4 separate regions of the Homo sapiens genome follow, and regions 2, 3 and 4 are each linked to region 1. The links come from fine-mapping of genetic effects on gene expression. A gene starts in region 1. Each other region holds a variant in brackets. All regions are shown on one strand. Distances are between the middles of the regions.

Region 1 (6,158 bases):
AAATTAATTCCATATATTTATGTTATTTTTAAAAAATCAGCTACTAGGAATGTTAAAATTACATATGTGGCTCACGTTATATCTCTATTGAAAAGTGCTGACCTAGACCTAAAGCTGAATACTGAATTTGACAGTAGATATCAAATACTGAAAGACTGGTAAAGAAGAGGCCACCTGCATTCACATGTCCTCTCCATCAATGATGGGAAGCCAGACGCTGGGGTTAGGATGAGGTGTAAAATACCTTACTACTACCATATTACAAAGACACACAAGTGAGGGTCCAAGAGGTTCTTATGTATACAACGGTTGAATTCTGGTGAAGAGAATTTATGAACTCTACTTCAGCTGATCAATGATCTTTTTATATCAAGAACTGAGACTAGTGAGTAAAATGATACTGGGCATGCAGAATTTTACTCTATGTTTTTCCTCTGGGTCATAGTGAAAATAAACAAATTGCTCCAATATGCTGAGTTTAGACTAACCTATTATTATAACTGAGAAAAGTAATCTGCACTAAATTACAAGAAACTACAAAATTATGTGGACCATATTATCCAATAATATTTTGCCATATTTGTTCCCTAGGCTTGTGTCAAGAAGTTAGCCATGGGTATGTGGCTTTATCAGTGTATATGTGCATCTTCATATCTTTAAGCATATATATCTAAATGTGAAGGGTGAGGCTGTTGGGGCATTTACTTAGATTATTTTTTGATGTATGCATTTGGCCTAACATTGACATGTGGCAATGTATCAGACTACCCTGCAGTTGGTTTGGTTTGTTTCTTTTTAATTGAGTGGTTGGGGGAGGGGGTAATAAGAATTTAAGTAACTTAAATGTAGCCCCTTAAATGCCATCCTCATACTAAGTTTAACACCAGAATTGTTCATCTCTTAACTATAAACATTTAACTTTAGGAAAATGATACTGGAGAAGTACAAAGCTATCAAATTTACAAATCTTAGCAGCAGAGACCACGAAAATATCTGCTTTATTCTAGTTTGGAATTTAACACAAGGATGAATAACATGCACGATTTTAGTTCAGCGATTAAAGTGCATACTCAGTTAAGGGGGGGTGGAGCAATAGAGAGAGAGCCTTCTCTTTGATCTCATAGGTTGCATTAAAAACTCACTACTCGTAATGAATTTTTGATCATCCCCTGGGTACACATAACTTGGTCCTTGCTCTTTCAAAATGAGTGGACTCAAACTGACTTACAATGTGACTGTGTCTACGGTGCACTTACAACCATCTTTCAGTAAAGGTCTTCAGATTTAGGCTCTAGGTAGAATAAGGCAGGAAAAAAAGGACACCAAAATTATCAGCAGGCATTAACTAACAAGAACTAGATGAAACAGTAATGTGTAATTAAATGATAATTAGAAAAATTTGCCAAAACTTTGAACTAAGATATTATCACATTTCTAATGCTTAAAATTACACGGAAAAATATATTCAGTGAATTTAAGAGAAAACAAACATTTTAAATCATTTATCAGCCATATTTCCAAAATGTATACTTTAGAAAAGAATTTATATATATATATAAAGGCTTATTAACATTAACTTTAAATTAGCTAATACTTGTGTCACACTTTTGAAGAAGCTTCTGTTTTGTTTCCAGGAACTGGTGGTGGTGGTGTGGTGGTGTTTTTTTTTTTTTTTTTTTTTTGGAAGGGGTTAAGGCGGCTATATTAAAAACAAAAAAACAAAAACAAACAGTTAAGCTGCATTCTTTTCCTGTGAATGGCTTATTTGTACTCCTCTGTTAATATTCTCGAAACCCCATTTAGCTTATGATGTCTTCAAATAATTTAATAATCTGTCTTTAAAGTTTTGCACTAAATTAGAGACTTAATTTTTGTAAAACGCCTTGGAACCATAAACCTTTAACGAGATGAGAAAGGTCTCCTTCCTCTGGACTTGACTTTACTGTATAGGTGTGTGAGCGATTTTTACTGTCAAACATTGCCAAGGCAGATTGTTGTTGTTCAGTCTGCAAATGTCTCGACTATACCTGCACAGTTCCTCTCTTCCCAAGACAAATCTATCCACCCCTTTCCCCCCTGCAAGTTTTAAACTTTGTTTCCTTGGGGGCTCTGTAACAAGCAATGCTAACAACGTCCAAGAGACAAAGAGCTGTTCTGTGGGCTAACACGATGCCAAATTTTAGTTGTGAAACAAAGCACTCAAATTTGAGATTGAGGAGGAGGAGCAGAATGACAATAGTAAAGCCTCCAGCTTGGAGCCACCCCCCAGAAAGCCCCTTCCCCGGAGCCCCGCGCGGGGAGTTCCAGCCCCGGGACGGTGACTCCGGGGTGCAGCCGCCAAGCCCCCGTGTGCCCTCGCTCACCGCTTCACGCGGATGATCTGGTCCCGCATGGGCTTGATGTCCTGGAAGCTCTGCTGGTTGACGAGGCTGTAGACGAGGATGAAGCCCTGGCCGTTCTTGATGTACAGGTCCCGCATGGACGCGAACTGCTCGGTGCCCGCCGTGTCCAGGATCTCCAGCACCGACGGCGACGAATCCACCTCGATCTCCTTGCGGTAGAAGTCCTCGATGGTGGGGTCGTATTTCTCGATGAAGGTGCCGGTCACGAACTGCACGGTCAGGGCGGATTTGCCTACCCCGCCCGAGCCCAGCACCACCACTTTGTACTCGCGCATCGTCCCTCCGCGGCCGCCGCCGCCGCCGCCGCCCGCGACATAGACCTACGCCGGCCGCGCTGCGCCCCCAGCCCCGGCCCCGGCGGCCCGCCCCGCCGCCTCCCGCTGCCGCCCCCACCTCACAGCCGCGGCGGCCCCCTGGGCGCCGGCGGCGGCGGCGGCAACTGAGGGAGCAGCGGCCCTGGGCATGGGCCGGGCCGAGCCGGGCGGCGATGCGGCCCCGTAGGCACCGGGTGGGACTGAGGGCGAGCAGAGAGAGAGACCGGGAGCCGCTGGTGCCGCCCGAGCCGCGGGCCCGCAGTGCCGCCCGCCCCGCCCCTCGCGCCTCCACGCCCAGATCCCCGCCCGCCGCCGCCGCCGCCGCCGCCGCTACCCCCAGCGCTCGAGCGCGCGCCCGAGCCCCAGCCGCAGCGCGGCCAGGGGCGGGGTCCGGCGGCCGGGGCGGAGCCCGCGGCGCAGCCCCGCCCCCGCCCCCTAGGCGACGGGCCGCGAGCGCTCCCGAGAGGCTTTGCGGGGCTCGGAAGCTTCTGCCCGCGCGGAGATAAACAAGCACCGCGACCGCCGAGCAGCGCCGAACCCAGCGCGCCCAGTCAGACCCCAGGGCCTGTGTACCGAGCATGCGCAGTTCCCGCCCAAGCCAGGAGCAGCGTCAACCTGAGACTCCCGAGACATTAAGAATTCGGAAGGGATGAGATGGTAGAGGGGCTAGAGCTACCTCCAAGCTTTATCCTGAGGCGGGGAGTGAAGGAGAGATGCCCAAGGCCCAAGAGGGGCCGCGAGGGCCTTTGTCCGATGCCACCCAGTCTGTCAGCACTCCTAGAGCTTTGGTTTTATCTTGTATTAGCATGTGAAGCTTTAAGGGGGGGGCACCTACAGGCTTCTGACTGAAGTTGTGTAAACGCAACAAAATGAAGCTTTGGAGCGTTAGGACATTGATGGGAGGGTGACGCCCCCCTCTAGCAGCGCGCCAGAGGGGCGAGTCAGAGGCGGCCACACACCACGGAAGTCGGGTCCAAGCCCGCTGACGTCGCCGGGGTCCCGCCCACCAACCCTCTGGACCCGCCCACATTTCTTCTAGACCCGCCCCTTTCGGTGCCGAACTGAAGTCGAGCTCTTCCCACGCCCTGTCAGCCACGGGTGAGTTGAAAACCTGGAGAGCGGAATCCCGAACGGCAGCCGGAAGGCCCTGGACTCCTCATAGCAACAGCCAGCTAGGGGCATCTAGTGGGAAGCTGGGATTCATTCTAGCCAACCACATCACGTCTCTGTACCACAAGGTACCATTCACGACCAATAAGAGAGCGCCCCCATACCACGTGCCTTTACTCCTTCAACCAATCGAGAAAAACGCTAGTCGTAGGATCCGCAAGCCCACCTCCCAGTGCCTTGCCAGGCGGGGCTCTTCGCGCACGCTCTGCCAACCAATCGTAGGTGAGCTGGCGAGTGACGGAAGCTTCGGCCAAGCCAACCAGAGCTCGCGAGCCCCTTGCCACCGAGGCCGGCGGGATGGAGACAGGGACCGGCTGCTGGGGTTTGGGAGGGGCAGAGATTGAGGAGCCAGTTGCTGTGCCCTGTTCTGGCAAAAGAACAAGATGCGTTGCAAGCCAGAATGATGAATTCCACTTTTCACGTCGCCTCCGTGGCATTCTGCCTAAATGATGGGCATGGAAATGGTGCTGAGGGATGTGGGCTGAATCGAGAACACAGGGACTTTTGTCTTCAGGGTGAGAAATGTTCCGGTCCTTAAGGAAACATCGTGCAGCAGTTGCATGGGTCTTCCAGGCGTTCCTCCCAAAACATTATTTTTTTTCTTTCACTATTGAGTTTTAAAACTTAGCGTTCTGTCGCTAGCATTGCATCTTAGTTACACATCCTCTCCCACCCATAACGTCAAATTTAGGAGACGATACATCCCCAAGCTTTCCTGCATTATTTTTTGCAGTAACTGGTTATTCAGTTTACTTTCTTTAAACTATGTCCTTCTCAAACTAGTCTCACCTGTTCGTTACTGTCGCACATTTCCTGCGAATAACACGTTTCTGTAGTTCTGTTGTTAGAGCCTGGCATACCTCTCCCCGTTCCTCTTTCCCACAAGGTCATCATGCAGAGGGGATTTTGGTCTGAGTTAAAAGCCAGGTATTCTTTCACCATCTTTTCTGTCGATAGTCAAACTACTACAAAGACTACTCAAATTTAGTAGTTTCTTATTTCCCTATAGCTTCGTTATATTAGAATGGATAACTTATATTTGCATTACCTTGCTGTAATGAACACACACCAAGTTTTCATTTAAAATTATCAAGGACAAATGTCCTCTGAATTTAAAAATGTGTATGTAGTAAAATATAACTCAGCATTTCTTGATTACATATCATTAAAATATGAATGGTACTATCTGAGCCACCAGAATCAGCAGTGAAGGTATTATATTAATAAAAAGGACTAAGAATCAGGACTGTTTTAAGGGAACTGGAACCGAAGAGGATCTACTATTTCATCCTAGGCTAGTTAACATGAAATAGTGAATTAAAATTGAAAGAGCTTACATGGATGCTTCATATCTGAGCTACTTTGGCAGGGATGTTTCAAGAGGATGTAGGTAAGTATGGTGTTCACCTAGCTTTCCAGAAGTCTCATATTTTGTGTAAAATTGGTATGCTTATTCATGGTTACTTTGGGTTAGTAGAAGCTATACTTCTTTTCCAAGGAAAGACAGACTGTCTTAAGATTCTAACTGTGCATCTTGGTGATAAGAAGTTCTTAGGGTTGTTAAATAGAGCCAGGAAGCGTGAAGCTTTCTCTCTAGATCATGACAACTCATCTAGTACCTTGCATTACAAAGGAGCTCTAAGTCCATTTACTTTGCAAGGAATGAAGTTCCAGTGATTAATGTTTTTGAGAAATTTGTATTGGGATTGTGGGGTCCAGAAGGTTGCCTTAAGTAACTGTTTTCATGACTCCTAGGTCCCTAGATGTTGAGAAGCTCTGGATTGAAGCTGTCACAAAAATAGTGAGTGGGCTCCGTAGTCACTCCATTTAGCATAATACAGAGTAGGACAGCTTTGTGACATTTCTCAGGCTATTTCCCCTGACCTCTCATCAATGCTGACGTTTTTGATAAGAAGGGGTATAGAGACTGCAGCCCTTGGGGTGGTTACAGTTCATTTATTTACAGGCCTTATATTGACAGGCCTCAGATTTCATGCTCAGTACCATAAAGGTTGATTTTTAACCACCAAGAGGCAAAAGAAACATGACAGGTCGGAGCATATTTTCTCACCTATTCTGGCTTAAATGATGGTACTTACCTGATTTGTGGTTGTAGGTGAAATGTTGGGTGAAAGATTAGCTGCTATAAAAAGGATGTCAGGACGTGTAGAGAATTTAGAGGACTTGGGTGGGAGATGGATGTCTATTTTCTAACCCCTTAGTCATGTTCATTCCGATGCCAGCATAAACTCTATTTTGAGATGATTATAGA
Region 2 (6,158 bases), 49 kb after region 1:
GATCATATTTTGCAGACATGGAAAAGATGACGTGCATAATTTTAACTGGCTTGCACAATGTACAAAGTGCTTGCACAAACCAGCATGAGTTTGGAGATGTCACTCTGCTCATTGGTGAAGGCATCCCCTCCAGGGCATGGGGACGGTCTGAGATAGGGCGACGGGACACAGAGGTTCCAAAGAGCATGGCTGTGCCTCATGGAGCCTGCTTCAGAGGGTGCTTAGAAGAACCCCTGTGAGCTTGGGAATCAGGGGAAGGCGAGGCCCTGGGGTGGAACCTACAGCAAATGCACTTGGAGCTTTAGAGGGGAGACAGTGAGACTGTTTGGAGGGGCTAGATGGGTGGAAATTGCTGGGGGACTGTGAGGCTGCTGGGCCTCTCATTCAGGGCATCCTTGCCTGGGTGGTCAACCACATCCTGCCCCAGGGCTCCTCCAGATGGATGTTGCAAACGTGTCTGCTTATAGCATCAGAACACCCTACCGCACCACAGTGCCGCTGCCTCAGCTGCTGAGAAATCTTGGCAAACTATGACGGTAGGAAAGAAATCAAAGATATTCAACAAGCTATATTTCTATTTGTCTCCCTGGGAGACTATTGCCTCAAGTAAGTAGTGTTTTATATAACAAAGCACCATGACAGGAGAAGGAAGTTAAATTATTAAATAAGATTCTAGCTAATCTAGTATGGTAAATCAAAATTCTGAACTGCAAGCATTATTTTCAATTCCTTTTTCCACTAAAAGGAGAACAGACAAAAATAGGAATAGCTGATGCCCACAGTATCTGTGATTCTGTTTTTAAGGCAAAGATACACTTGATCTCAAATCATGAGTACTTTTCTAAATCTTCAGTGGCCCCTCTGGGTGGAACAAGAGTATCTCTGATGCAAAAATATCAGCTGGCTACAATGGAGTCTGCTTATCAATAAGGAAAGGAAATCACATTAAGTGAATTAAACTGTCTCCCCTAGGTGGTTGGATTTAAGAATCTGATGATTCTGCTCAATATACGTTCTCAAGTTACCCCAATGTGAATCCAGTACCTGATTAGTTTCATATTTACTTGTTGAAGACAAAGCATGAATGGCTTCAAAAGCATCAAATGGGTTATTTTTCTATCAAATATGTTATGAGCAGCCATTTAATAATTATAGTGTCCTCAGTGAATTGCCTGCCATTGACTCACAGTGCAGTGGTAGCCAACCTTACTAAAAAGTGGACCAGATTAGGTACTGTCTAATACTAAGCCTCCTGGGGCCAGGCAGGAAAGATATGTAAGTGAATAGGCCAGGTCGAGGGTGTGGCAACAGCCACTCAGCCCCAGCCAAGTGCTACCTGCGGAAACATGGGCTCCATATTACTTGACCTTTTCATTTGCCAAAAGAAGCTGGAAATTCAGCAATGAATTCACATCACAGAAGGATCATATATATCTTTGGGCTAAATTCAGCTAAGAGCTGCTGGTTTGTGTCCTCATCAGCTTTACTTTCTTGAAGGCAATATCCACTATATTCACTAAGTCTGGATGGCTTCCTGAGCTGGCATCAGCCAACGCTACAGGCAACATCATGGCAGGCAGCAGTGGTAAGAGTGAGACCAGGAGAGCAGGTTTACAGGAGAGTTAGTCCTACAACTTTCAGACATTTGGCTTTCGCCCAAAGAAAGAGAGTATGTGACCAACAAGGCACCCTCTACCTAAAAAGAAAATACCAACCCTCCCTTGACTGAGTCATCAGTTATGAAACATGCATGTTTTCTTGTCTCTGCCATGTGATGATGGATTTAGGCTGAGCCATCCATACCTGTCACTCATGATGTGCGCTCAAAAAAGAGCTGAACAGGGTGAGAAACACACTTGGTTCAAAGCAAAATAGTCTCTGCAGAGACTGAAACACTGAACTTGAACTAATCAGCACCATGAACTTAACAGCTGAACTAACCAGTCCTCATGCAGAATGGTGCAAGAGAAGACAAATCAACGTAGAATTTCCTTAGTATTTCAGAGGTACCAAGTATTAATACATTCTGGGTTTTCTACCTTGAGGTTGATCTCCAGGAATTGTACGTATGTATAACTTTGGAAACTGTGGGCTTCTAGGTGACTTCTAGAAGTGTTTATACTTCTTATGTAAAAGTGCTCATTTCAAAGATTCAAGGATGTCAGATGAGTTATTTTTTAAAATGATAGCTCAATATTAAATTTGGTAAGAACTGTTCCTGCTCTGCTTAATTGATAGGAAAACATTCCAGTGAAAATGCCAAGAATTTCCATATATGCAAGTCATCAAGCAATTAGAAAAGAGAAATAATGGATGTTTTGGTTCAGTCTTCCTGTGAATAGCCATTAGGACTGTCTTTGTAATGTTGAGTTTGGATGGCATAGATAAAAAATACCTTATAACATATTTGTGCAGCCTTGCTAAACTACTAAGGAATCTCAATGCATCTTGATGTCACTAACATGGAATCTCAAGTGGGTACTTCCAAGCAGGGCTGGTGCACTAACTGGGTCCACAGCCAAACCAAGCTCTTTAAGGACAGGGGGACTGTCTCATTCATCTTTATAGCCCCAGTATCTAGGATAGGGCTGGGAATTTATTAATTGTTGCTTGCATGGATGGCTAAATAAATTGAAGTCATTGAAGACACAGTGCCACAATGCTGGCATCAACAGAAGACCACCAGACCATTCATGGGAGAAACAGGAATGGGGCAGAAAAAGAACCCTTTGCACAAGATGTGTCATCTGTGCACCTT[G/T]TTAGGGTAGTTAAGGACTCAGAAATATCTAAGAGAAATAAACATTCCCTCCCCATTCTCCCATTCTCCCTACTCCCCATTATAGATAAAGGGGAAAATATTCCAGGCTGGGGGCAGAATCACTCACAGAGAAGGGAAATACAGCAGATAAAAATTCACCTAAAGTAACCTTCTAGACTTGGTAGGTTTCTTAGAAATCTTTTGCCATGGTTACAAGGCCCTGTTTCCCCAGAAGGCAGTTAAAGATATTAATAATATTTCACTGCCTCTTTAAACAAAATTTATTATTAATTTAAAAATAGGCAATTAATTGGCATTTCCTAAAAATAGGGCTAAGCTAAGGAGGCTCGCACGTTGCTCACCCTCCCAGTCTGTGTTTCTTCATCCAGTGTTTTCTTCTGATTCTGTCTCACAAGTTCCTTCTTCCCACTCTCTGTTAGCATTGCTTCCTCCTTTAGTCTGTGCACCATTTAATATTCTCTCCACCTTTTCCCCACTGCCCCACACCTCTTCTCCACAGCAGCCATGACTGTCTGAAATGCCCTGATCTTGCCTGAGAGGCTACACTTGTGAGATCTTTCAGTTGAAGCAAACTGCACAGAGGCAAAGGGACATGTGTACATTTTGACTCCAGTATAATTCAGTACTTAATCACAGTATGGATTACTGAAGTCAAAAGAAGTGTCTTAGTCTCTTAGTGAATATATGGTATCAGATAAAAAAGTAATTAAAGCAATTATAATTATACATGTTAACAAATGTACACTTTCAAGAACTTTCTTTGGCCTATTTCATGACTATAAAATTTTAAATATAGGCCGGGTGCAGTGGCTCATGCTTGTAATCCCAGCACTTTGGGAGGCCTAGGTGGACAGATCACTTGAGGTCAGGAGTTCGAGACCAGCCTGGCCAACGTGGTTGAAACCCTGTCTCTACTAAAAATACAAAAATTAGTTGGGTGTGGTGGTGCACGCCTGTAATCCCAGCTACTTGGGAGGTTGAGGCAGGAGAATCACTTGAACCTGGGAGGTGGAGGTTGCAGTGAGCCAAGATTGCGCCACCACACTCCAGCCTGGGCAACAGGACGAGACTCCCGCTCAAAAAAAAAAAAAATTAATTATATAAAAAGCTCAGAGATCATCAGTAGTATATGAAAAGACACTTAAAAATAGTCTGATTCATTATTCTGGGGGAATATTGTTCGGAGGTTGGGCAGTGTCATGCCATATTTGACTTATTTTCAAAATGTAGTTTTATTTGCACAGAAAAGGCATACACTGAGGTCCTGGGGAAAAATTATCAAATATGACAATCAGCTTTACTCTGGAGAAGAGCACACTGAGGTTGTAATGTCCGTAATATTTCATAGCACCTTCAAGAGGAGTTTTGCCAGAATTATTGTTTTGTCCTCTGCTGTTTAGTAGAAAGTTTATATTCAAAGCTCTAATTCCCCTAGTTTCAATGATACTTTTTGTGGATGACTCATTTCTGTCCAATATTTTCCACTTGATTATATTTGAACAAAATATTTTTAGATATACTAAAGAAAAATTGTCATTTAAAACTATTAATAATTGACGTTTTACATGAAAAGCAATAATACTGTCCTCGCTGAAGATTACTGACCAGGGTTCACATTGACAACTTAGAGTATCTGGATAAAATTCATAAACGGGAATGCTCAACTTTGAATAAGATTCTGCTCTTTGCATGAGTCCATGTCACATGTAAAAACATCTAGGTTCTTATGAGTATTGCAGTTAGGCTTTGATTATAATCCCCTCCCTGACTCCAGACAGTCTCCTTCAATCCTAGCTCCCCTGGGGGAATTCTGAGGATCATTTCTGTGGCTCTCATGCTGAGATGGGAATCTTGTCCTCAGACCATCTAACAACCCATATGTCATCCAAGGGTGAACACTTTTCTTCTCCTATATGATATAAATGAGGATGAAGGTAAAGAGGCATGAGAAGGAGACTTTTCTTTCCTGGCCCTTTCCGCTGGCGTTCTAGAAGTGTTTTAAGCAAAGACATATTCAAGAGCACTGTGTATTTATTCAGAAGGAGGGGAGTTATGCGACTGTGTTTCCTCAGCAGGTGCCAGAAAAGGTAAAATCAAAACAAAACCCTAGATTGGAAGGACTGCATGATAGCCAGGAAAAAAAAAGTGAAACCCTGTCTCTACAAAAAAATTAGCCAGGCATGGCCCAAGTGAGGCTAAGGCAGGAGAATCACTTGAACCCGGGAGGCGGAGGTTGGAGGTTGTGGTGAGCCAAGATGGCGCCACTGCACTCCAGCCTCGGTGACAGAGTGAGACACCCTTTTCAAAAAAAAAAAAAAAAAAATAGTTGGCAGATGAAACCATGGCATCAAGAGAAATGGGGAAGAAGGTGGTGTGAATGGGTCTGGTGGCTACCCAGAAGCAGGCCCGAGATTTTATCTTCCTATTCCTTACCCAACATTTGTGATTCCACACCATACTTCCCATTCCGACTCCACAGGCTTTCCCCGGATGACATTCTAGTCATGGAATTCACCAGGGATTATGGCGCCTCCACAGCTCCAGCAGGTGGAGGAGGTGACGGAATTTTCTATTTTCTGTTGCATGGACATCTGGGGGTTTGGTGATATGTTTCTTGAATCCCAAAGATATAGCAACATCATAGACATGAGTGGCATTTGGCCTGGGCCATGCTTTAGCACTGTGTTACTTATAAAAATGCCACAAACTAAATAAAATGGTTGTAGGCCAGCCCAGAGATCTAACCACCAAGGCCATGGCTGTCTCTGTAGGAGAACTGAATTTCAAACCAAATGACAAAGGTAATTTTGAATATGTTTAAAATTAGGGACTGTATGTGTACTAAAGCAGGATAAATTCCTCTACTAAATCAAGAAAAAATATATAATATGTGGGACACACTAAGAAAATATTTGAAAGTGTTTAAAATATTTACAGTAAGTTGTGTAGGAAGTGAGGCTCTCTGAGATTAAATAGGCTGCTTCACTGAAGATGACTCCTGGACATAAAGTAGAATCTGAGAAAACATTTTTATACCTTTAAAAATCAGCACTGTATTCACTGCTGTATTCCCAAGGTAGGTCTTAATATTATGTAACATAATATGTAATATATGTAATATGCAGACAATATGTTACATAATATTAATTAATATAATATGTAACATAATATTAAGACCTACCTTGTTGTATACATTGAAAATATTTTCCTAATATATCTATTTTTGTTCATGGTTATTGTTGATATAAGTATATCTGGAATATTTTAAAGAACAGGAACTGGCAACTCAGGAGTGAAAAATAAAAATTTAATAAACGTGAAAGTTAAAAAAATTAAAGCAACAAGGGAATTCCAAAAAAATTCATTTATGCAGCAACAG
Region 3 (6,158 bases), 37 kb before region 1:
AAACCTATTTTTGTGGCGTGTCTCATGATGTGGATTTGTCTGATTGTTTCTCCATGATTCGATCCAGGTGAAGATACCACATAGGTGACATTGGGTGCTTCCTTTTGTGTCATAGAGGGGCCCATGATAGACTTTTGTCCCTTTGTTGGTAGTGCTTGGTTTGATCACCTGGTTCATGTGGTGTCCGCCAGTTCTTATCACTGAAAGGCTACCTCTTTCCCTTGGCAAGTAAGAAGTAATTTGTGAATATATGTTTCCCTCTAACCCTTCCACCCAATGGCCTCAGCATTGCTGATTGCTGATCCTTCCCTGAATCTACTTTGATGTGGAGGATTGGAAGGGATGACTTCTTGGTTCTGTTTTCCATATCTATTAGCTAGTATCCTATAAATGGCTCATCCTTATTATTATTTTTTAATTTCACTATGAACTCTCAGATTCAGTTTTTTATTAAGCTGTTTTTTGTTGGACATCATACCCTTTGCCTTGCGAAGTATTTACCAAACTATGAAATACTAGTCCTGTGACATGTTCTAAGAAAAGCTAGCATCCTATGGTTAAATAGTTTGCAGAACATAATGTATTTATATCTCACAATGTTACATAATCCACATTAGGATATTGAAAACCACAAGAGCCTATTTAACTTTGTTTAAGCAGGTGTTTCTCAAACTTATTCGACCATGGAAATCTTTTTCCTATTCAACATTAGTACTTGATGGAACACATTTGCAGAAACACTGGCCAAGAGCCAGCTCTATTAATGTTTAAATATTTCATCAATAATATGAAACAAAGACTGATGATGATGGTTGGTGTATCACTGTTCAATAAACTGTATGATTACAATGGTTATTTTCCTATTATCATATTCATAAGGTCAACTCAGCATACCCCTGAGGGGCTGGAGGTCAAGAACAACCCTAAAGTAGGCAAAGATTTCTTTAAAAGAACACAAAAACAGTTAACCATCAAATAAAAGATTGGTGCATTGACTTCATTAAAAGTGAGGACTTCTGTTTATCAGGAGATATCAACAAGAGTGTGAAAAGGCAAGCTTCAGACTGGGATAGTACACTGTACTTATAAACACGTGTCCAGAAAATGTAAAGAACTCCTACAAATATGTAAGTAAAAGATTAAATAAATCTTTTTTGAGTCACTTCATGAAACAGTAAACAAAACATTTACTCAATGGGCAAAAAACATAAATAGCCATTTCACAAAAGAGGGTAACCAATGACCAATAAGCATATAAATATATTGGCCTTAGAGAAACATGAAGTGAAATCCACAATGCCATACCACCACGCTCCCACCAGAATAATGAAATGAAAAATGACAAAGCCTGACAGTGCCAGGTATGTGTGTGGAAGGTGGAGTTGGTAGATGCCATGAGGCACCACCTGGACCTCCTTTCAGTCAAGTAACTGCTGCCCTGCTGCTGAGAATGCTGACAACCTTCACTCTCTGATCCTTCAGGGATTGCCTCTGCATCTTGTTCAAGGTCACAGTGACTGACAGGCAGAGGGTACAGAGGACTAAACCATCTGAGCCCAACTCAGGACAATTCTAAGGGCCCCATTCTAACTCCCTCTGTCTGGGGGTTGTTGGCCCTGCATCACACAACTTCTCCCTCTGGCCAATCTTACTTCCTCTACTCCCTTCCACAGGAGTTAATCCCAAGGACATTTGGTAATAAGCATCCTGCACACTAAGCTCTGTATCACAGCCCTCTTCCCAGGCAATCCATCCTGTGACATGGTGCAACTGGAGTACTCACACGTTGCTTGTTTATGTAAACTGGTACAACCACTTGATAAAACTATCAATGTTTACCAAAGTTGACAATCAAGTCTTGTAGTTCAGCAATTCCCCTCCTAGATAGTGACCTAGGAGTGAGTATTGTGTCTATCCACCAAAAGTCATGTACACAGATGTTCATAGCAGCTTTATTCATGATAGACTCAAACTGGGAATGACTCCAATGTCCATCAACTGTAGATTGCCTCCTCTCCTCTTCTCCCTCTCTCTTTTCTTTTCTTTTTTTTTTTTAGGATGGGGTCTCCCTCTGCCACCCAGGCTGGAGGGCAGTGGCCTGATCTCGGCTCACTACAACCTCTGCCTCCCAGGTTCAAGCAATTCTTCTGCCTCACCCTCTAGAGTAGCTGGGACTACAGGCATGTACCACCACGCTTGGCTAATTTTTGTACTTTAAGTAGAGACAGGGTTTCACCATGTTGGCCAGGCTGGTCTTGAACTTCTGACCTCAAATGATCCACTCACCTTGGCCTCCCACAGTGCTGGGATTACAGGCATGAGCTATTGCACCCAACCCTCTCCCTTTCTCTGCCATCCCTCTAGAGACTACAGGGGTCAGAGGAATTCTCACGCTCACAACCGATCCAGGTCCCCTCACCTGGACAGAGTTCCCACATCAGCATTTGGAGGCCAAATATCTAATAGCAGCATTTTCCAAATTGTGCTCCAGAGAGTGCTACTATGTATAATTGAAAGAAAGTGTCCTGGGGTCTAGTTATTTTTGAGACATGAGTGGAATTTGAGTTTTTTCCAAGATGTGAGATGTGTTATGTGGGGTTTCCCAAACTTGCTTGACTCTATCATCGTTTTCAGCAAACCCTCTCATGGTATAAGACCTCTTCAGAACACACTACAGAGCTGTGCTGTGAACAAACCAACATTTTAAACTAAAAAAACTCACTGAAACCTAAAAACACCTGGTATTTAACTATAGGCATGGACCCAGCATTTATTCTTCAGTGTAGTATCTGATACATAGAACCCTTTGCCCTGCTGTCCCCAACCTGCCTCTGTATCCCCACTGCCCCTCACTAATCCTATTTTTACTCTGAATTCTTCCTGAGAAGTAGACCCAGCCTGTAACAGTAGAGCCTTGAAGCCCTGCTGTATTGCCATCCCCGTCTACTGTGTCCCACAGACACCTCAAGATCCCGGGAGGGACTAGCTCAGGCTGATGCACCGATCTTGAAAAGTGAACAGAGCCAGCAGCAGTCTCTGGGGCTGTGTCTGGAATTTCGGCTCAGCCTGGGTTTACTGGGATGCTGACATGTGAAAGTAGGGAAGGTACAAATTATTTCTTGCTAGTAAACTAAACTGTATCTGCCTTAAGAGAAAAAGGAATGGCAAGAAGACAGGACTAGGATGTCTTTGACATCAGGGTTTATGTGTAGATGACCATCTCTGTATTGTGGCAGTGCCAGATGCAAGTGTAACCTCTCAATAAATAATAGCTGAATGAGCATGGAATGAGTGGATTCAATTTAAGTGAAAGGATTAACAGTGGGGAAAAGGTCATTTAGAGTTAGGAGCTTGTTAGAAGAATTAGAAATTAAGTGGCAGAGTTAGAAACTCAACTCTGCCACTTTATTAGCTGTGTGACTTTCAGTGATTCATTTTTAGTACTTAGAGCCAGTTTCTCAAAAGTAACATCGAGTTATTTATCCTTCTACCTATGTTCACGTACTTGCATATGTATATGTGCATAGGAAGATGCTGGGAATGATTTACATCCATTGTTAACATGGCTGTTTTGGGGAACTGAAAGTTGGGGTGACTTTTTTTTTTTTTTTTTTAAGAAGGAGTCTCCCTCTGTCACCCACGCTGGAGTGCAGTGGTGCGATCTCGGCTCATGGCAACCTCTGCCTCCCAGGTTCAGGTGATTCTCCTCCCTCAGCCTCCCGAGTAGCTGGGATTACAGGTGTGTGCCACCACGCCTGGCTAATTTTTTGTATTTTTAGTAGAGACAGGGTTTCACCGTGTTAGCCAGGATGGTCTCAATCTCCTGACCTC[A/G]TGATCCTCTTGGGGTGACCTTTTCTTCCCTTCACTAATCCTGATGTTTTTAAAGGTATAAAAGCACATCACACTCAAAATAGTGTAAAACTGTAAATATGAATCATTGATACTGAAGTTTTTAAAATGGGAGGATCTTATACTAAAAAATCCCCATAAGCTAAACCAAGAATCTTTCCTTCAGTTTTATTCCCAACTCATACATACTAAATAGGTCTTCGTATTTACTCTTTCAAGCAGCTAGTCCTCTACCTTTTTCTCTGCTGAGAAATCTTGGAGGAATCCTTAGAGGCTAACATGAAGACTACTAAGAAAATATAGAAAGAAATAACACAGCGTCTTACCTAGAATAGCAGCAAATCTTTTAAAACTCAATACCTCGATGTTGGGGATGTTGAATATTATCTAAAAACTATTTATAGGCCAGGCATGGTGGCTCACGCCTGTGATCCCAGCACTTTGGGAGGCCAAGGTGGGAGGATCACAAGGTCAGGAGATCGAGACCATCCTGGCTAACATGGTGAAACCCCGTCTCTACTAAAAAATACAAAAAATTAGCCAGGCATGGTGATGGGCACCTGTGGTCCCAGCTACTTGGGAGGCTGAGGCAGGAGAGTGGTGTGAACCCGGGAGGGAGCTTGCAGTGAGCAAAGATCACACCACTGCACTCCAGCCTGGGTGACAGAGCGAGACTGTCTCAAAAACAAACAAAAAAACCACAAAAACTATTTATGAAAATATTTATTAAAAATACTAGATAATATTCAACGATGTAAAACCAGTTGGAATGATCCATTTAAGAGATGAAGAGCAACTATGTTTTATTAGTATTTATGTGGCAACATATTTTAAATTAAGAAACGAGGTCAACAGCTTCTTTCAGAAGTTTGTGGTAATATTCTCTGCTTCATAGATCCTAGAGGTCAGTTGGGTTCCAAATTGGGCAGCACCTTACTCCTTTAGCTACATATATTTTCATTCGTGGACCTCTAACAGACAAATAATATAACTTGAGAGAATTTCAGAGTACTACTTTTTAGCCTCAAAGACGTTCTTCCAACTATCCACTATTGATACATTTAAATAATTTATTAAAAAATTTACAAACACTTCAAATAAAATTATGAAGTTCTTCAGAAGATATTCCTAAAATATAGGCATGTTTTCCTTTAAATATCTGGGATTCTATCTACAGTGCCTCTGTTATATTCATTCAAATTATTCTTATAATCTAAAACAATGAAGCTTCTCAACTGGTGGAATGCTGCCAGAGGATTTCAACAGAGTTTGAAGGCAACATAACCAAAAGGCATAGTTTAAATTGGCTTAGGAAATGAATGGGCTCCTTATCAGAGCAGCTGAAGGCTGTATACAATTAACAGCATCTGTCAACTTTCATAGGGCCCCATATAGAACAAGCAGGCCCTACAGCCTGGCGGCAACCTTCAGCTTCTGGCACCTTCGGATCCACATGACCTGAAAACAGAAAGACGGCTTCAAGCCATCACTAGAAGGCCTCTGAATCATTTTAGTGATATTGCTAATTAATGTTAATTATTTGAACAATTCTGTTAACCTTAGCATCAGGCTTTAAATTAACCAGCTACCATTCAAAATATAAAATCATTTGTAGAGATAAGTTTATATTTATAATAACTGATTTTACAGTCTCTTACATGTTATTTTTATTTTTAAAGACTATGAAAATTATCTACCTACCTGCCTTTTTATATGATGAACTCTCAAATCAGCTAAAATATTTTTGTATGAAGAGTACTAAATTCATTATATGGCAATTTTTAATTGTTTTTGTATATAATACATTTCTCTCATGAGCATGTACAAAACAAAGCAAATCCAGAGTTTCATTAAATAAATTTATTTGTTAAAATAATTTAACTCCAAATACAACTGTTGAATTTGCATTGAGTTATAACTACAATTCATGTTTTAATTGAAATGTCAAGGTTTAACAACTGACATTGTTACAAAACAATAAACTTGTTCAATTTTAAATGGTCAGTTGTATTAGAGCGCAACAATTAACTGTGAACTATATCTCTGGGAAACCTCAAATCAATAATGATAAGTCTGTTTCCAAAACCCACTGCAGTCATTCTTGAAACCCTGATCAAGATTTAATAGATGAACAATGACATGTTAAATAAAAAAAAAAAGACCTCCATAGTCCTTAATGTTTGATTGGCTAAGGGACAATTAAAGCTTACCCAGTGCTAACACAAGACTGCTGATAAGAACAAAAAAATTAAAAACACACACATAAACAAAAAACAGCAACAAACAAAACAAAGCACTTTCATATTCAT
Region 4 (6,158 bases), 97 kb before region 1:
CAGGCTGGAGTGCAATGGCACGATCTTGGCTCACCTCCTCCTCTGCGTCCTGTGTTCAAGCGATTCTCCTGCCTCTCCTGGGATTACGGGCATGTGCCACCATGCCCGGCCAATTTTGAACACAGACAGCCTGCGTCCAGAATCCCTGCTCTTTCCCTGTATACCACATGGCCTCCTGTGCACGATCCAGAGGAGACATCCAGGTGTTGGATACATGGGCCCGGGGTGCAGCAGAAAAGCATTGCCCCAGTGCACAGCCATATCCATATGCCGTTGGCGCATGGATTGGAACAAAACCATGGAACTCGATGAAGGTATGGCCTAAGAAGATCAAGAAGCTAAGGAGGACCAGCATTATAGGGTGGGCCAGAAGAGTAGATCCAACAAGTGTTAACCTATGGGAGAATGTCAGGGTAAAGCAGGTTGTCAACATGACCCTATGCCATAGAGACATCAGGGCTGATTAATGTATCAGAGAAAGACAGAGAGAGTAAAGGAGAGAGAGACTGATATGGTTTGGCTGTGTCCCCACCCAAATCTCATCTTGAATTGTAATCCCCAGGATTGCCACATATCAAGGGGGAGGGATCCAGTGGGAGGTTATTGGATCATGGAGGTGGTTTCCCCATGCTGTTCTCGTGATAGTGAGTGAGTTCTCATGAGATCCGATGGTTTTATAAGGCAGTTTTCCCTGCTCTTGCACGCTGTCTCTGTCTCCTGCCATCATGTAAGACATGCCTCTTCCCCTTCTGCCATGATTGTAAGTTTCCTGACATCTCCCCAGCCATGGGGAACTGAGTCAGTTAAATCTCTTTTCTTTATAAATTGCTCAGTCTCAGGTAGTATCTTTATAGCAATGTGAGAATGGAGTAATACACAGGCTCAGAAAAGTTCCTTGCATTTGGCAATTGAGAGAATAATGGGATGATGACTTCTGTCAGAAAAGTTTGTGATCAGGAGGTGGGGGTGGAATTCTGACTTGGGTGGGCCAGAGGAACTCAACGGTGGAAAAATAAGTGGTGACATCATAAATTGACACCTGTGAGAGATGGCGGATGAACTGAATAAAGTGTAGGGTATTTAGCTTGTCATGATTGTCCCTGAGAAACAGGTTGCAGGAATGCTACTTGCATTGAATAATTTTATTAGTTATCATTTAATTCCTTTAAATTGATTTCTTTAGTTCCCTATCAGAGACAAGCTCAAACTACACACAATGAATACATCACGGACTTCTCCTTCTCTTTATTTCGCTTCACTCTGGGCAAATGAAAGACAACAAATAAATATTGTGGATCTTGGTATTTAATGGTTTATAATCAGATAATTGTTCACTGTCCAGTACTCACTGTTCCTAATGCCCCCTAATCCTTCAGGCATCACAGATATGAAGTGGATTTGGTATCTGATGCCTTTCTTTTTTTTGTTTGTCAAATGAATGAATGAATGAACCTAGTCCAATCATCTGTTTCCAAAAAGGATGCCGCAAAGTACACTGGAATAAGATTCTAACTTCAGGCCTCTGAATTATCTGAAAGCCTACTCTAGTGTTTAATCACCTGAATCATCAGGGAGTTTCTTCTTCAATTTCATGTAATTATAATATTTTCAAACCATTTGCTCTAGATTGGCCTTCAGGAGAGGGCCAGAAATCAGCCTCCTGCAGCCTGCAAAGTTGGTGCCAGGCTGCTCCATTGCTCATTCCTGGATTCCTGGATGGAAACTCTCAACCCAACCTCATGCTGCCTCCAAAGCCTCCCTCCCCTGCCACGTGTCTTCTCCCTCCAGGCCTCCACTTGGGCAGGGTGAATGGGCTCTCCTCTCACCAGTATCTGCTCTCAACAGCAGCAGCCTCTTCTCCTTCGCTAAATCAATCCCTAAATCAATCCCCATCTACTTTGCATTTGAAAAACATGAAAAAAACGTGGCCCTTGATATCACCTGTTTTATTTTTTGTTTTTGTTGTTTACGCCTTTGCAATTTTTTCCCTCTATAATTGTAGTAGGGCCTTGGGAGTGAAAGATAATAAACAGCTTCTATTTGTCATCTTTTTTTCTTCCACATTCCTTATGAACAAAATTTGTTTCCAGGCTTTGGGGGGTCATGACAAGGTTATAAGTTATGAGTCTACAGAGTCTTTGGGTATGCACTGCCATCTGGATCTACTGTACCAGGGGCTGGCCAGAGTGTATCTTTCCAAAGGAGTCCTGCATCTGCCTGCTTAGGGGATGATCTAGCATTTCCAGCAGACCTGGAGAGGACAGAAGGGGTTGGATTGAGGAACCTGCAAAATCTTGAAAATAGAGGGGGCTTCACGTCATAGCCCAAATGCCTTAGCTTATGAACTGATTCACTAGAGAGCCCTTTTGGAGGGAAAGTAGCAGGCATGTTTTCTGTTCTATCTATGTCTTTTATCCTACTCTGAGCAAGAAAAAAACAGGCCTGTCAGTTCTTTATCCCCAGCAAGACCCAAGCTGGACTTGCATTATTTCTCACTGAAGAAATCCACACTCACTGGCCTGAGTAGGAAAAGAAAATAACAGACTATTTCAATAAACTGTGAGGCCTAAATGACTGGATTACCTAGGTCCTATTGAGACAGAATTTATAGAAAAACAGACTAGAGAGTTAATGAAAATGTAATGAGAAGTCTTCAGGAGATAAAATAAGGGAACATAAAATTTCTGGAATTAAAAAAAAAATGCCTAATTTCTAGATGTAAAGTTAAGAGATGAACTCGAAAAGAGAGCAGTTCCTGATGAAAATCACATTGGTTATCAGAAAGATCAAGTGGAGGAAATAGCTCACAACCCAGAGCATAGATGCAAAAATATGGGAACCATAGATGAAAAGACAAAAGACATGGAAGACATAGGTGTGCATTTAAGAAAAAAATTAATGGCCGGGTGCGGTGGCTCACGCCTGTAATCTCAGCACTTTGGGAGGCCGAGGAGGGCAGATCACGAGATCAGGAGATTGAGACCATCCTGGCTAACACGGTGAAACCCCGTCTCTACTAAAAATACAAAAAATTAGGCGCGGTGGCGGGCGCCTGTAGTCCCAACTACTCGGGAGGCTGAGGCAGGAGAATGGCGTGAACCCGGGAGGCGGAGCTTGCAGTGAGCCGAGATAGCGCCACTGCACTCCAGCCTGGGCGACAGAGCGAGACTCCGTCTCAAAACGCGCGCGTGCGCGCGC[A/GCA]CACACACACACACACACACACACACACACACACAAAGAAATTAATATATGGAAGATAAATACTGATCAACAAATAATAATAATAGATGAAACTTCCCTGTGCTGAACGAGACCTTGCTTTTGGTTCAGCTAACACCAGGAAGTTGTAATAACAATGACAAAGAAATCAATCTCATCCAAGTGAGTCTTCTGAAGTCCGGTAAGATAAAGTTTCATAAACTTCCCCGTGCAAAGAAAGGGCTGTTACATAAAGAGGAGAATGAGACTAGCATCAGTCTCACTACAGAATGGAAACTGGAAAACAGTAAAGATTTACAAAATTTTGAGATGAATCACAATGTCATTTAAATGTGAGAACAGAAGAAAGCCATTACTAAAAATGCTATGGCCCACTCTCTTTAAGGAAACACTCTTATTTATATATTCCAACCAAACCGAATTTAAGGATAACCTAGATCTCAGGACAGGAGAAGATGAAGAATACAAGAAACCGCAGTGAGCAGTCCTGTAAAACACATAGTGAAGTCTAAAGGATGGTGGTCATGTGGCTGTGAACTGTAATGTGAGGTAAGTAATAATTCCCTAACAGAAAAGAAAGACTGCATGTCTCTGTATGAAATCCTATGTGTATTCCCAGAAGTAAGCACTTGCTAATATATACTGAATAAATACTTAGGTTAAGAGTTCAGTTTTAAATAAGTCTCAACAAAGTTGGTTCCAGAGCAGATTAATAAAAATCTTGATATGGGGACGATTACTTTAAATTTATTACCACATATCTATGATTTTGTGACTTAAAAGTTAGGAAACTACTAGCTAAGAGAGAGAATTTCCTAATTTCTAGAATTAGAGTGGAAATTTAAAATAATACAGCAAATTAGGAAAAAAAGTAAGAAGAAACAACAAAATAATTATCAACATAAAGTAAAATGGAAAAATAAAAGATACTAAGTATCACAATGAAAGTGAAGAGATGCTTTCTTATATAAAAAGACAAGCAACTTCATAGCTAGGCATGGTGACATGCGCCTGCAGTCCTAGCTATTCAGGAGGCTGAGGCAGGAAGATCACTTGAGCCTAGGAGTTTGAGGCCACAGTGAGCCATGATCGCACCACTGGGCAACAGAGCTAGATCCTGTCTCAAAACAAACAAACAAACAAAAACAAAACAAAACAAAAAAACAACAGAATGCTTACACATTCTAGCTATGTGTTGTTTAAAAATAAATTCAACTAAAATAGAATAGTAAAGAAATGTAGAAAATAATGAAATATACTAAGACATTTTAAGCAAAATAGAAAAAAAAGCTGCTATAACATAATACTAGATAAAGAAGAGTTTGAGGCATAAAGCATTGTATGGGGAAAAGATAAAAGGCATAATCTATAATAAATTACAATAAATTAACAAATTTCAATGTCTCCAAATAGCAGTTAAATACATAAAGCAAAACAAATAAAAACTAGAAATACAGAGACCTTATAACATCCAAAATCATACCAGAAACTATAATACACTTAAATCAATGAACATTAAACAAGAGTAAAGATATTTCAAATAATATGATCAATAAATCTGATTTAAAATTAGGTATGTAGATAATTTTCTGCCCTACGGACAAAGATGCACATTCTTCACTATGTCTATCAGACAGTTGCAAATAAACCATTTACCTGACTACAGTGAAAATTAAGAAGTTTCAAAATAACATTTTTATTGGCCACATTCTCTGACTGAAAAGCAACAAACTAAAATTTATTCACAAATAATAAAAATATTACTTTTAAATTAATAGATTTCTAAAATGCTCAAACTGGAAATCACACCCCCAGGCACTTAGAAAATGCAAGTCATCTAGAGAAATGAACCACTCATGGTGTCCTCACAGAAGTTTCACACATAGAATCGCAACAAATATGAGATCACAACAAAAATTCTCAAGACACATGACAAGAGGAGCAGCTTCTGAGGATGCTGACTTGGTTGTTTTGGACTAATCCTCCTACTGAAGACTGTAGCCTGATACTCTTAGTGAAATACATGAATCTTTGTACATTGTAAAGATCTTCTCCATTGCCTTGAAATATTTGAGCAGAAGGCTGATCCATCAAAGAATACAAAAATATCAGGATTAGACATGTCAAACAAAAAAAAAATTTTTTTTTTTGAGATGGAGTCTCACTCTGTCACCTAGGCCAGAGTGCAGTGGCACAATCTCAGCTCACTGCAAACTCCGCCTCCCAGGTTCACGCCATTCTCCTGCCTCAGCCTCCTGAGTAGCTGGGACTATAGGCGCCCACCACCACGCCCAGCTAATTTTTTGTATTTTTAGTAGAGATGGGGTTTCACCGTGTTAGCCAGGATGGTTTCGATCTCCTGACCTCGTGATCCACCTGCCTCGGCCTCCCAAAGTGCTGGGATTACAGGCGTAAACCACCGCACCCGGCCAAAATTTTTTAAAAAAATTTTCATCCACAAAAGCAGAAGTCTGGTTGGGTGCAGTGACTCATGCCTGTAATTCCAGCACTTTGGGAGGCCGAGGTAGGCAGATCACTTGAGGCCAGGAGTTCGAGACCAACCTAGGCAACATGGTGAAAACCTGTCTCTACTAAAAATACAAAAATCAGCTAGGCGTGGTGGCACATGCCTACAATCTCAGCTGCTGGGGAGGCTGAGGCATGAGAATTGCTTGAAACCAGGAGGTGGAGGTTGCAGTGAGCTGAGATCATGCCACTACACTCTAGCCTGAGCAAGAGTGAGACTCCATCTCAAAAAAACAAAAACAACAGAAAAGCAGAAGCCAATCAACCCATCTATGCTTTTTTAGAAAATAATTTACGTCCTACTCGAAGATAACTGAGTTACTTGAAGAAAATTGAAGCTGCTTCCCTGCAAACTCCATTTTGGCCTGGTGGGGACTCCAATCCCATGGCGTGCTGTGTGTTCTCTATCTGCTAGG

Direction of the effects. Positions count from the first base shown, and alleles are read on the strand shown. Sizes are in standard deviations (SD) of each study's normalised expression.
In carriers of allele T in region 2, the expression in monocytes of the gene that starts at base 2,979 in region 1 tends to be higher than with G alone (moderate effect, 0.52 SD a copy in Quach 2016).
In carriers of allele A in region 3, the expression in neutrophils of the gene that starts at base 2,979 in region 1 tends to be lower than with G alone (large effect, 1.0 SD a copy in BLUEPRINT).
For the expression in iPS cells of the gene that starts at base 2,979 in region 1, allele GCA in region 4 goes with a lower level than allele A (moderate effect, 0.71 SD a copy in HipSci).

The links. PIP is the estimated chance that this variant, and not a neighbour inherited with it, causes the effect.
Region 2: its variant is the best candidate, but not a certain one, in a credible set for the expression of RAP2A in monocytes (Quach 2016, PIP 0.75).
Region 3: its variant is the best candidate, but not a certain one, in a credible set for the expression of RAP2A in neutrophils (BLUEPRINT, PIP 0.89).
Region 4: its variant is the best candidate, but not a certain one, in a credible set for the expression of RAP2A in iPS cells (HipSci, PIP 0.60).

The regions. Positions count from the first base shown.
Region 1 is chr13:97,430,990-97,437,147 of GRCh38, reverse strand. RAP2A (RAP2A, member of RAS oncogene family) reads right to left here and starts at 2,979. Exons shown (of 2, transcript NM_021033.7): 1 at 2,364-2,979. The coding sequence starts at 2,677. RefSeq lists silencers at 2,803-2,862, 2,883-3,242 and enhancers at 3,393-3,442, 3,463-3,592, 2,864-3,795, 3,743-3,882.
Region 2 is chr13:97,381,617-97,387,774 of GRCh38, reverse strand. The region is part of intron 8 of MBNL2 (muscleblind like splicing regulator 2); the gene reads right to left. Among named protein-coding and RNA genes, the nearest start is that of RAP2A, 49 kb to the left of the region's middle. The variant G/T (reference allele first, on the strand shown) is at 2,759.
Region 3 is chr13:97,467,528-97,473,685 of GRCh38, reverse strand. It overlaps RAP2A (RAP2A, member of RAS oncogene family), which reads right to left. Exons shown (of 2, transcript NM_021033.7): 2 at 4,558-6,158. Among named protein-coding and RNA genes, the nearest start is that of RAP2A, 36 kb to the right of the region's middle. The variant A/G (reference allele first, on the strand shown) is at 3,832.
Region 4 is chr13:97,527,642-97,533,799 of GRCh38, reverse strand. It overlaps LOC105370324 (a long non-coding RNA gene), which reads left to right. Exons shown (of 6, transcript XR_007063845.1): 5 at 1-314; 6 at 1,627-2,046. Among named protein-coding and RNA genes, the nearest start is that of RAP2A, 97 kb to the right of the region's middle. The variant A/GCA (reference allele first, on the strand shown) is at 3,199.